3 separate regions of the Homo sapiens genome follow, and regions 2 and 3 are each linked to region 1. The links come from fine-mapping of genetic effects on gene expression. A gene starts in region 1. Each other region holds a variant in brackets. All regions are shown on one strand. Distances are from middle to middle.

Region 1 (4,183 bases):
CACCTGGGTCCTCGATAATCTCTAGGCCACTGCCTACCCCAAATCCACACTCCTCCCTCCGGGAAATTCTCTTATGAACAAGTATCCAATTCCAACCCCAAATCCTGTCTCTTCTGTTACCTCATTTCTCTCCTTATCCCCTTAGCCCCAAGTCCCAGGGTGCCCTCTTTTCAGAAAAACTCCACAAACTCTTACGCCAGAATCCCTTCTACTTACTCCTTAACCTTTCCAGTCCCCCCATTTCCCAGTCCTACTAGAAAGCTGCCCTGAGGCCTGGTGCAGTGATTCACGCCTGTAATCCCAGCACTTCAGGAGGCCGAGGTGAGATCACCTGAACCCAGGAGTTCAAGACCACCCTGGGCAACATAGCGAGACCCCCCATCTGTATTTAAAAAAAAGAGAAAGAAAGCTGCTTTTTTCTTTTTTGAGACGGAGTTTCACTTTTGTTGCCCAGGCTGGAGTGCAATGGCGTAATCTCGGCTGACTGCAACCTCCCCCTCCCAAGTTCAAGCGATTCTCCTGCCTCAGCCTCCCGAGTAGCTGGGACTACAGGCGCACACCACCAGATCCGGTTAATATTTGTATTTTTAGTAGAGACAGGGTTTCACTATGCTGGCCAGACTGGTCTTGAACTCCTGACCTCGTGATCCGCCCGCCTCGGCCTCCCAAAGTGCTGGAATAACAGGCGTGAGCCACTGCACTCGGCCCGAAAGCTGCTTTTTTTCTAACTGAAGATTCACGCCGTCCCATATCAGGTTTTCCTCTCCTCAGACAACCGCAGGTCTACCCGAACCCATTCCCAGAGTCACAGCTCCTGGCTGATGAAGAGTTCCGTGCTGCTCCCCGAGGGCCCCCACTCCCTGGGTACACAAATAACTGCTTCTGGGAACCGTCGAGATTTCTCCTGGAGACGCTCAGGTCCAGAAACATTCCCCACACTCCACTCTGAGGCCTCCAGTGAAGTCAACAGGTTTCTTTCTCTTTGCTCCCTACGGCCTCCCCCCTCCCCATATTCGCTAAGCCAGATACGTACTCCTGTGCTGGACACAGGATCCTCTGTCTCCCGCCACATATTTCATCCACTTGGAATGTTACCAACTCATCTGCCCCCATCCCACCCCCAGCTACCCTCTGTTCTCCAAAAACCCCACAGTTAGCTCCAGACCAGTCAGCAGCAGCCTCAAGAGTTATTTGCCCTCAGTTTTCTTAGCTCTAGACCCCCAGATCCTTTGTCCAGGAAAGCATCCTCTCCCCCGCCAGCCTCTGGACACCAGGGCTCCCTATACCTCTTCTAGAAGCCAACCAGAAAGTCCCCAGATCTCCCAGCACCTAATGTCCAGGCTGTGCCTGCTTCAAGGGTGGCCTTCCAGCCCCGGAAGAGAGATGGGGGTGCCCCCTAGTTCAATCTCCCGCAGCCCCTAAATGCTCACTAGCCAAACTCCAAAGCACTGAGTCCATTAGGACCCTCCCCAGCCACAGACACCAGCGCCTCCACCTCTCCCACCCACCCCCGTACCCAAATAGGAGAACGCCCAGGATCGCATCCAGCGGCATATTCCAGGATCCTCCTTCCTCAGAACTCTCGCAGCCCCGCACACCTGGACATTCCTTCCCCACCCTGGAAACACGGCTCCCCACCCCCCAGCCCACACGCTGGGCTAGCACGACCGCCAAGCCCACGGAGCTCCGTACCCTAGGATCCCCATTTTCGAGACCCTCCCCAACCCAAACGGAAAACCTCTTGTTCTTCCGACTCTCTTCGGCTCCAGAAAGCAGTTTCCGGTCTCCGATCCCTACGGTACGGAATCCTCCCCGCCACCCCCGTCCCTCACCTCCGAAACCCAGAGGCCCCTCCCCCAGTGTCCCCCCTGCACTGAGTGTCAGGATCCACCCTCCGGTCGTGCTGGGGCCCTGGTCCCCAGATCCTTTTCGGCGGCGGGTAGCGGGATCCCCCGATCCTCAGGTCGTCTCCCCGACCTCAGGCGCTGGACTCCCGCGTCCCACAGCCCTTTCCTCGGCCCAGGCTCCGGGCTCCCCGGCCCCCGCCCCGCGCACTCTCACAATGTCCGTCCGGCCCCGAGTAGCCGCCGGGCTCCGCGTGCGGCTGCAGCCCGGGCGGCGGTGGCTGCGCGGTCCCCTCCAGCTCGGAGCCCCCCTCGGTCTCGACCTCCTCGTTGATGTGCCCGGGTCGCCCCGGTTCGTCGTCGGCGTCGAGCTCCCGCTCGTCGTCAGGCTCCTCGGCCTCCAACGCCGCCTGCAGCCGCTCAGCAAGCTCGGCCTTGAGGCCTCGAGTGTCCAGGCCGCGGCGCTGCAGCTCCTCGCGAAGTTCGTTCACCTTCAGACGGCGCACATCCATGGCCCGGGCCCCCGGGGTGGCCCCCGAGCCCGGCCCGGCCTCCCAGGGCTCTGTCCCCCTTAAACCTTTCCTGTCAGGAGGCGAAGGGGGAAAGGGGGGGGGCCCACTCCAATGGCGGCAGCGGCTCAAAATGGCCGCCGCCACCGCCTCCCCCCTCACTCGTGCCTCGTCCGATGTTACATGAGTGCCAATTGGTCAGTGCGTGGGGCAACGGGCGCGGGCCCGGAAACCTAGCCAATCAGAGCGCCGTTTTCAAAACAACGGCCACGAGAAGGCCTAGGAGCTACTGGGGAGGAAGCGTTGGCCTACGTCGAAGCCGAGGCCGGAGCGGAGGGCGGGAAAAGGCAGGAGGCGGAGCGCTTGCTGATTGGGTAACTCTCGCGCGCCGGCTGCCGTAAGGTCCAATGAAAATAAGGGAGTAACAATTTGGTCCAATCAACGGTAAGATCTCAGAATGAGTGTCCCACGGCCTTTCCTGCGCAGTCCTTTCATCAAACTAAGTGTCTCTGTAACACACATTCCGATTGGTGTACATCTCCCGCCCCTTGAGGAGTCCGAGCGGGTAAAACCACTAGAACCAATCAAATGGAGGGTCGGCAGAAACCCCTCCTTCCTGTTGCCTTTAAGAAACCGGAAAGAGATGAATTCACCAGGAGCCCGCCCCTTGCCGTTAGGGCGGTTTCAAAACAATCTGCCCACCAATCGCAGTTATTGTCTTAGCTCACTAAAGCTGGTAGCGATGGCTCATTTTAGGAAAAGTTCACCAGATTGGCCGTGCTTCAGAGGACTGCCTCACAAATTTCGCTGTAGGAGGAGGTATACGAAATAGAGATTAAGTGGATACACAGTTCGTAATCTGGAAGGAACCCAGTTGCCTTTAGGAAAAGCAAAATTTTGAGTTGAGAGAGTCCCGAAGGTTTGGCTATAGAAACTAGACTAACAACGGGAGGCAAGTTGTAAAGGACACGGCCTCCCCTTCCCTTGGGTAGTCCGCGGCCGCCTTGCTCTATGGTCGGGTACCTGACGTGGAACGGGCGCTCTGCACGCGACCATAGAGCCTTCCCCTCCCGAAAGACATCCAGAAGTTCACCGACCGCTCTCCCGAATCCTCTAATCGGCTGTTCCCGTAAATCGGGCTGTCTGGCGTCTGTACCGACAAGCTCAACCCCACGGATCCGTCATTAACCTTCGCGCTCAGGAATACAAAAGCCACAGAGCTTCCCAGTGTCTAACGCTGCACCACCTGTCGCCTCTAACTCAAAACAAAACTCGAGTAAGACGCAATCGGGATACATGATGCAGACTCCCACTGCCTCCTGAGCCACACGTTAAGCCCGCAAAAGCCACACACTATCTCTACTCAGACAAAGGCACACCCCGCAGTCGTAAACAAACAGGCGTGCGTCAGATCAGACGCATCCAGTTCTTTTTTTTGTTGTTCTTTTTTTTTTTTTTTTTTTTTTGAGACGGAGTCTCGCTCTTGTTACCCTGGCTGGAGTGCAGGGCCTCTATCTCAGCTCACCGCAACCTCCGCCTCCCGTGTTCAAGCGATTCTCCTGCCTCAGCCTTCCGAGTAGCTGGGATTACAGGTCCCCGCCACCATGCCCGACTAATTTTTGTATTTTTAGTAGAGACGGGGTTTCACCATGTTGGCCAGGCTGGTCTCGAACTCCTGACCTCAAGTGATCCGCCCGCCTCGGCCTCCCAAAGTGCTGGGATTACAGGCGTGAGCCACCGCGCCCGGCCCCAATTCCGATCTGCTTTGGGTAAGGCACCCCGCTGCAGTGTAGATGTGCCCACTACGGTCCGCAGAGGCAGGCGGCATCG
Region 2 (4,183 bases), 75 kb before region 1:
ATTCTCCTGTCTCAGCCTCCCGAGTAGCTAGGACTACAGGCACGTGCCACCACGCCCAGCTAATTTTTTTGTATTTTTAGTAGAGATGGGGTTTCACTGTGTTAGCCAGGATGGTCTCCATCTCCTGACCTCGTGATACACCCACCTCAGCCTCCCAAAGTGCTGGGATTACAGGCGTGAGCCAACGCGCCCGGCCTAATTTTTTGTATCTTTAGTAGAGACTGGGTTTCACCATGTTAGCCAGGATGGTCTTGATCTCCTGACCTCGTGATCCGCCTGCCTCAGCCTCCCGAAGTGCTGGGATTACAGGTGTGAGCCACCACGCCCAGCCTTGCTTTCTTGCTGGAGTGTTGGAATCACAGAATGTTAGAAAGTTGAACCCTGTGATTGTTGGAATTCAAAGTTGGAAGGTCACCATCTTGAATCCCTAAATTGTTGGCAGGTTGAGGTTCTAGAATGCTGGGATTCTAGAATGCTAGAATTTGGTGTTAATTACTGAAATGGAAAATGTCGGACTCAAGGAAAGCTGAAACATTGGAATCCTAGAATTTGGGGATTCAAAATGGGAAGATGGCCCATGTGGAATTCCTGCACCACTGGCCAATTGTGGATACCAGTGTTGGCAGATTGGAGTCCTTGAATATTGGGCTCACAGTGGTAGAATTCTGTTTTGAAATATTCACATCCACAAATGTTGGAGTTGGAGAAAGCAGAATATTGGTATCTCAGCATGTTGGAACTCAGTGTTGGAATGTTAGAATATTAGAATGCTGGGATTTTATTAATAGAAAGTGGCAGCAGGCTGGGCGCGGTGGCTCACGCCTATAATTCCAGCACTTTGGGAGGCTGAGGTGGGCGGATCCCTGAGGTCTGGAGTTCAAGACCAGCCTGGCCAACATGGTGAAACCCCATCTCTATTAAAAATACAAAAATTAGCCAGGTGTGGTGGCTGGCACCTGTAATCCCAGCTACTCGGCTGGGATTACGGCTATCCAGGTACCCAGGCTGGGGCAGGAGAATCACTGGAACCTCGGGGGTGGAGGTTGCAGTGAACCGAGATCGCGCCACTGCACTCCGGCCTGGGCAATGATGCGAGACTCCATCTAAAAAAAAAAAAAAAAAAAAAAAAGAAAGAAAGTGTCAGTTTGAACCTCTTGAGTGATGGCTCAGAACTTTGGAATGTTGGGATGCAATACTGGCATACTGGAATTCAGGAATGCCAAGATCCTCAAAGGTTGGAAAGGGGGAATCCTAGAGAGTTGAAGATGCTGTCAGAATGTTAGAATCATAAGATGCTGGAATGCTAATACTGCAATCTAAGAAAGCTGAAATGTTGGATTCCTAGAAAGTTGAAATGGAGAGTTAGAATGTTGTAAATTTAGAGTGATCATCTGACCTTATTCCTCCCTTGCTTAAAATATTTTGGTCCTGTCTCTGGGCTTTGTTACCGGCTGTTTCCCTGCCAGAAAATCAGCCCTGCTCCCAGGCTCCTTCACCACCAGATCTTAGCGCCATCAGCCCAGCAACGCTGTCAATGAACAAATTGAGGTCTTTTTTGAGACAGAGTCTCGCTCTGTTGCCCAGGCTGGAGTGCAGTGGCGTGATCTCGGCTCACTGCAACCTCCGCCTCCCAGGTTCAAGTGATTCTCCTGCCTCAGCCTCCTGAGTAGCTGGGATTACAGGCGTGTGCCACCACACCCGGCTAATTTTTGGTTTTTTTAGTAGACACTGGGTTTCACCATGTTGGTCAGGCTGGTCTCGAACTCCTGACCTCGTGATCCACCCGCCTCGGCCTCCCAAAGTGCTGGGATTACAGGCATGAACCACTGC[G/A]CCCGGCCACAAATTGAGGTCTTGAGTGCCAACAGCTCCTGACATTACAAAGGGAGATAGCCAGCCATGTCAGCCTCCGTAGGGAGGGACCCAATGTTGCCTAGGAAGTCTTGGCAAAAAATCAAACCTGAAGGCCAGGTGCGGTGGCTCATGCCTGTAATCCCAGCACTTTGGGAGGCCAAGGCAGGCAGATCGCTTGAGCTTAGGAGTTCAAGACCAGCTTGTGCAACATGTTAAAACCCTGCCTCTGTACAAGAAATACAAAAAAACTAGCTGGCTGGGTGGTGTGTGCCTGTAGTCCCAGCTACTTGGGAGGCTGAGGCAGGAGTGCTTGAGCCTAGGAGGTTGTGGCTGCAGTCAGCCAGGATCACGCCACTGCATTTCAGGACAGAGCAGGACCTTGTCTCAGGAAAAAAAAAAAAAAATCAAACCTGAATCTGATCAGGACTGTAGATCCTAACAGTTTTCTAGAAAGACAGGAACAGAGGAAATGGTCAGCAAAACTCAGACTGCAAGAAACCTCACCCAGTTTCTTCATCAAATACAATGCAAAGAAGGGGAAAGCACACACACACACACACGTACCCCCCATGCAACCAAAAATTCACATACAAGTTTTGACTCCCCAAAAACTTAACTATTAATAGCCTACTGTGGACTGGAATTCTGCTTTATCCACAACATAAACAGTTGATTAATACTTTTTTTTTTTTTTGGAGACAGAGTCTCTGTCATTCAGGCTGGAGTGCAGTGGTGCGGTCTCGGCTCACTGCAGCTTCTGCCTCCCGGGTTCAAGTGATTCTCTTGCTTCAGCCTCCCGAGTAGCTGGGACCACAGGTGCCCACCGCCACGCCCAGCTAATTTTTTGTATTTTAGTAGAGATGGGGTTTCACCGTATTGCCCAGGCTGGTCTTGAACTCCTGAGGTCAGGCAATCCGCCCACCTCAGCCTCCCAAAGTGCTAGGATTACAGGCATGAGCCACTGCTCCCGGCCGAATAATACATATTTTGCATGTTTTATGTATTATGTCCTATATCCCCTTTTTTTTTTTTTGAGACGGAGTTTCGCTGTTGTCACTCAGGCTGGAGTGTAATGGCACAATCTCAGCTCACGGCAACCTCCACCTCCCGGGGGTTCAAGCAATTCTCCTGCTTCAGCCTCCTGAGTAGTTGGGATTATAGGCACCTGCCACCATGCCCGGCTAACTTTTGTATTTTTAGTAGAGGTGGGGTTTCACCATGTTGGCCAGGCTGGTCTTGAACTCCTGACCTCAAGTGATCTACCCGCCTCAGCCTCCCAAAGTGCTGGGATTGCAGGGGTGAGCCACGCACCCGGCCGTATTCTTTGTTTTTTTTTTTGAGACAGAGTCTAGCTGTGTCACCCAGGCTGGAGTGCAGTGAAGTGATCTCAGCTCACTGCAACCTCCGCCTCCCAGGTTCAAGCAATTCTCCTGCCTCAGTCTCCCAAATAGCTGTGATTTCAGGCATCCGCCATCGCACCCGGGTAATTTTTGTATTTTTAGTAGAGACGGGGTTTCACCATGTTGGCCAGGCTGGTCTTGAACTCCTGACCTCAGGTGATCCATCAGCCTCGGCCTCCCAAAGTGCTGGCCTTACAGGCTTGAACCACTGCTCCCGGCCTATGCCTGCATTTTAAAAATAAGATAGAGAAAAGAAAATGTCCTTAAGAAAATCATAAGGAAGAGGAAGTATATTTTCCATTCATTGAGTGGAAGTGGCTTATCATAAAGGTCTTCATGTTGAGTAGGCTGAGGAGGAGGAAGAAAAGGTGTTGGTCTTGCTGTCTCAGGGCAGAGGTGGAAGAAAAATTCACCTGTAAGTGGTGAATTTTGTAAGAGGACCCATGTAGTTCAAACCCATGTCCAAGGGTCAGTCTATATATAGTTGACCCTGAATATATATACAGAGAGAGAGAGAGATGATTTTGTAGATTTTGAAAAAAGTCCTAAGAGAGGCCAGGTATGGTAGCTCACACCCGTAATCCCAGCACTTTGGGAGGCTGAGGCAGGTGGATCACTTGAGGTCAGGAGTTGGAGACCAGCCTGGCCAACATGGTGAAACCCTGTCTGTACTAAAAATACAAAAATCAGGCCAGCTGTCGTGGCTCACACCTGTAATCCCAGCACTTTGGGAGGCCAAGGTGGGTGGACCACCTGAGGTCAGGAGTTCGAGACCAGTCTGGCCAACGTGGTGAAACCTCCTCTCTACTAAAAATTCAAAAATGAGCCAGGCGTGGTGGCGGGCCCTGTAATCCCAGCTACTCTTGAGGCTGAGGCAGGAGAACTGCTTGAACCCAGGAAGTGGAGGTTGCAGTGAGCCGAGGTCGCGCCAT
Region 3 (4,135 bases), 38 kb after region 1:
CTTGAACCCGGGAGGCAGAGGCTGCAGTGAGCTGAGATCACGCCATTGCACTCCAGCCTGGGCAACAAGAGTGAAACTCTGTCTCAAAAAAAAAAGAAAGAAAAGAAAAGACAAAGAAAGAAAGAAAAAATACAATAAAATTGGAGCTAATTGGAGCTTCCTCTCCAAATCTATCCCCTTCCCGCTTTACTTTTCCTCTTTGGTTCTTCTCATCACCCAACATACTTTACCTGTTACCCAAGTACCTTGCCCATTGTCAGTTTCTCCCACTAGAATGTCAGCTCTAGGAGGGCAGGGGTTGTGTCTGTTTCGTCCCCTGCTGTGTCAGGATGGCCTGGCACACAATAGGTGTGCCATAAATGCTTGTTGAATGAGTGAGTGAAATTGTGTTCAGCTATGTACTTATGAGCATTCCTGGGCATAGGTGTAGAAATATGAGCATGTGTAATTCCATAGGGGAGTTCACGTATTGTGTCTTGACTGTTTTTTTCTTTTGTTTTTTGAGAGTCTTGCTCTGTTGCCCAGGCTAAAGTGCAGTGGCATGATCTTGGCTCACTGCAACCTCTGCCTCCTGGGTTCAAGCCATTCTCCTGCCTCAGCCTTCTGAGTAGCTGGGATTACAGGAGCGCGCCACCATGCCCGGCTAATTTTTGTAATTTTTAGTAGAGATAGGGTTTCACCATGTTGGCCAGGCTGGTCTCGAACTCCTGACCTCAAGTGATCTGCCCATCTCAGCCTCCCAAAGTGCTGGGATCACAGGTGTGAGCCACCGTGCCCGGCCTTGAGTAACTGTTTTCGAGTGAAGGTGGATTGCCTTCCCTCCCTAACGTGGTGGTGTTGGTGTTGGTATGACCAGCGTGCACACACAGAAGCACGTACAATTACAGAGACAAACACGAGAGACACAGACCTGCAAGCACACAGAGATACCCAACACAAACCGCTATACAACGTACATCAGTCCCCCTTTATCCGAGGTTTCACTTTTTGAGGTTTCAGTTACACTTGGTCTAAAAATATTTCAATGGAAAATTCCAGATATAACTCCTAAGTTTTAAATTGCATGCCGTTCTGAGTACTGTGATGAAACCTCATGCCATCCCACTCTGGTTGGCCTAGAACGTGAATCCCCCCTTTGTCCAGCATCTCAGTGCTGTATCTGATACCTGTCTGTAAGTCACTTAGCTATCAGATCAACTGTCCTGGTACTGCAGTGCTCAAGTGCAGAGTTCAAGAAACTCTTATTTATCTAAATAATCGCCTGGCCGGGTGCTATGGCTCACATCTGTAATCCCAGCACTTTGGGAGGCCGAGGCGGGTGGATCACTTGAGATTAGGAGTTTAAGACAAGCCTGGGCAACACAGTGAAACCCCCGTCTCTACTAAAAATACAAAAAAATCAGCCGGGCATGGTGGCGCGTGCCTGTAATCCCAGCTACTCGGGAGGCTGAGGCACGATAACTGCTAGAACCCGGGCTGCGGAGGTTGCAGTGAGCCAAGGTCGCCACACTGCACTCCAGCCTGGGCGACAGAGAGAGACTCTGTCTAAAAAAAAAAAAAAAAGGCCCCAGGGTGCAAAATAGTGATGGCTGCAATTCGGA[T/C]AGGCCAAAGAGAAGCCTTAAAGTGCTTCCTTTTAAGTGAAAAGGTGAAAATTCTCCACTTAGAAAAAGATAATCATATATATATGTACTGAGGTTGCTAAGATCTATAGTAAGAAAACAATCTATCTGCGAAATTGTGAAGGAAAAAGAAAGTTATGTGTAGTATATACAGGGTTTAGTATTATTCATTGTTTCAGGCTTTTGTGGGGGCTCTTAGAGAACGTATCCTGGTGAATAAGGGGAATCCCCCAACACAGATACACGTAGAAACATAGACACCCCCCTCCCCCAGCACACACACACAATGTCTGCGCTAGGATGTAAGAAGGACCAAGTTTTTCGTTTTGTTTTTTGAGACAGGTTCTTGCTCTATCTCCCAGGCTGCAGTACAGTGGCACAATCACGGCTCACTGCTGCCTTGACCTCCAGGGCTCAAGCGATCCTCCTGTCTCATCCTCCCAAGCAGCTGGGACTACAGGCGGCCACCACACTTGGCTAACTTTTCAATTTTTTTTTGTAGAGAAGAGGAGAGTCTCACCACGTTGCCCAGGCTGCTCTCAAACTTCTGGCCCCAAGCGATCCTCCCGCCTCGGCCTCCCAAAGTGCTGGATCGCAGGCAGAGCCACTCGGTGCCCGGCCCTGGGACCAAGTCTTGTAAGTGCGACTGCAGTTCTGCGTGTTGTTTACGCGTGTGCTTGTGCATCTGTGTTTGTGTTTCTGAGCTGGTATGTTTGTGACCCTGCGTGTATCTGTGGATGGTGTGTACGTGCATGTGTTGAGTATCTGTGTACGTGTCTCTCGTGTTTGCTCCGTGCGTGTACGCCTCTGTTCCCACCGCGTTGGCAAGGGAGGCTCTCCATCCGCAGACACAAAGTTTCCTTTTCTCCGTCAGCGGAGGGAGTGGAATGGTGCAAAGTCTGCAGAGGCCGGAAAGGGGAGGGTAGGGGAGCTCCTCAGTCGCGGCTTCCTAGGTGGCCGTTCCCAGACAAGGTCAGGTGCCCGCTCCCGCAGCCTCCGCGCCCTGAAGGCCCCGCGCCCGCAGCCCCCGCGCCGCCCGGAGGAGAAACAGTACAGTCCCGGGCGGGCGGCCCGAGTGGGGGCGGGGAGCCTGGGTCGGGTCCAGCCACCTGGCACGTGGGGCCCCGCCAGGGTCAGCGCGCGGGAGCTGGCGCCGCCGGCCGGAGAAGCCCTGGGGCTGGAGGTGGGTTCTGGAGCCGGGTCCCGTTCCGACCGCAGCATTCCTGCCCCCGCGTGAGTCACCGGGGGCACCTCCCCACCCCAGCGCTTCCGGCCGGCTTCGGGGGCGCGGAGCCAGAGCCGGGATCCCCCTTCCCAGGCCCCAACGGCCGCACCTTGAGTGAAGGGGACAGGAGGAACTGGGACCCCTTCCCCTCCAGAAGGTTCTTGCTTTACCGCAAGACGACAGGAGCAGGCCGATTCCAGATGTGCTTTCCAGATGTCCTGACCATCCCCCCACAACCCCTGCTCTCCGCCCCAGCTTTTCCAGAGAATGAGAGGGATGGAAGGAGGAGGGGCACGCCCTGAGTCAGATAGAGGGACAGACGCACACAAACGGACGAAATTCCTTCACACAGCAAACCCCCCCACACACACACTCACAATGAATCACACTTAAACACACAGGGGCTGTTATTAGCACAGAAGACGCAGCGCTTGGTAAGTTAACGGCACACAGATATGCAAGGGCTGATGTCACAAACACAGTGACACAAAAACACCGTGACTCACACATATACACGCGGGCTGACACTGATGTACATTCATAAAGAGACATGTATGCATACAAGCCAACGTGGGACAAACACATAAACACACAGTCACACATGTACACATTGATTACAAACACCTAGCGACGCAATGTACATCTAGGCTGATGCCAACACACACAGAAACTTAAATGTCCCTGTATATTCAGAGACACACACCACGTAACAGCGTACATGGAGTTGAGGTGGACAGATAGATACACACCAGGACACAATGAAGGGTCATTTTGACCTGCTCAGACACAGACACACCGACGCGTACACCTCACAGCCAAGCCTCCATCTACGCCATAAGATGGAGCTGGATGCGCCCAGGTTTCATGTTCACCCAGACACAGACTGATACAAAAACACATTTGCGCTGGGTGCGGTGGCTCACGCCTGTAATCCCAGTACTTTGGGAGGCCGAGGCCGGTGGATCACTTGAGGTCAGGAGTTTGAGACCAGCCTGGCCAACATGACAAACCTGTCATGAAACCCTGTCTTTACTAAAAATACAAAAATAAGCCAGGCGTGCCTGTAATCGCAGCTCCTCAGGAGGCTGAGGCAGGAGAATCCCTTGAACCCCGGAGGCGGAAGTTACAGTAAGCCAAGATCGTGCCACTGCACTCCAGCTTGGGTGACAGAGTGAGACTCCGTCTCAAAACAAAAACCCCAAAAAACAAAAAAACACAGTTTCGTAGATGCGCAGGCCTGATGCAGACACACAAGGATGGAGACACTGCCATGGACACATAGATTGACACA

What was found. PIP is the estimated chance that this variant, and not a neighbour inherited with it, causes the effect. A credible set is the group of variants that fine-mapping cannot tell apart.
Region 2: its variant is the best candidate, but not a certain one, in a credible set for the expression of HNRNPUL1 in fibroblasts (GTEx, PIP 0.52).
Region 3: its variant is the best candidate, but not a certain one, in a credible set for the expression of HNRNPUL1 in whole blood (TOPMed, PIP 0.63).

What each region holds. Positions count from the first base shown.
Region 1 is chr19:41,262,677-41,266,859 of GRCh38, reverse strand. It overlaps HNRNPUL1 (heterogeneous nuclear ribonucleoprotein U like 1), which reads right to left and starts at 2,488. Exons shown (of 15, transcript NM_007040.6): 1 at 2,062-2,488. The coding sequence starts at 2,356. RefSeq lists silencers at 1,963-2,012, 2,033-2,102, 2,193-2,432 and enhancers at 2,438-2,976, 2,977-3,516, 3,517-4,056.
Region 2 is chr19:41,337,198-41,341,380 of GRCh38, reverse strand. The region is part of intron 5 of TGFB1 (transforming growth factor beta 1); the gene reads left to right. Among named protein-coding and RNA genes, the nearest start is that of TGFB1, 15 kb to the left of the region's middle. The variant G/A (reference allele first, on the strand shown) is at 1,831.
Region 3 is chr19:41,224,917-41,229,051 of GRCh38, reverse strand. All of the region lies in intron 4 of AXL (AXL receptor tyrosine kinase), which reads right to left. Among named protein-coding and RNA genes, the nearest start is that of AXL, 7.8 kb to the right of the region's middle. RefSeq lists an enhancer at 3,866-4,135. The variant T/C (reference allele first, on the strand shown) is at 1,602.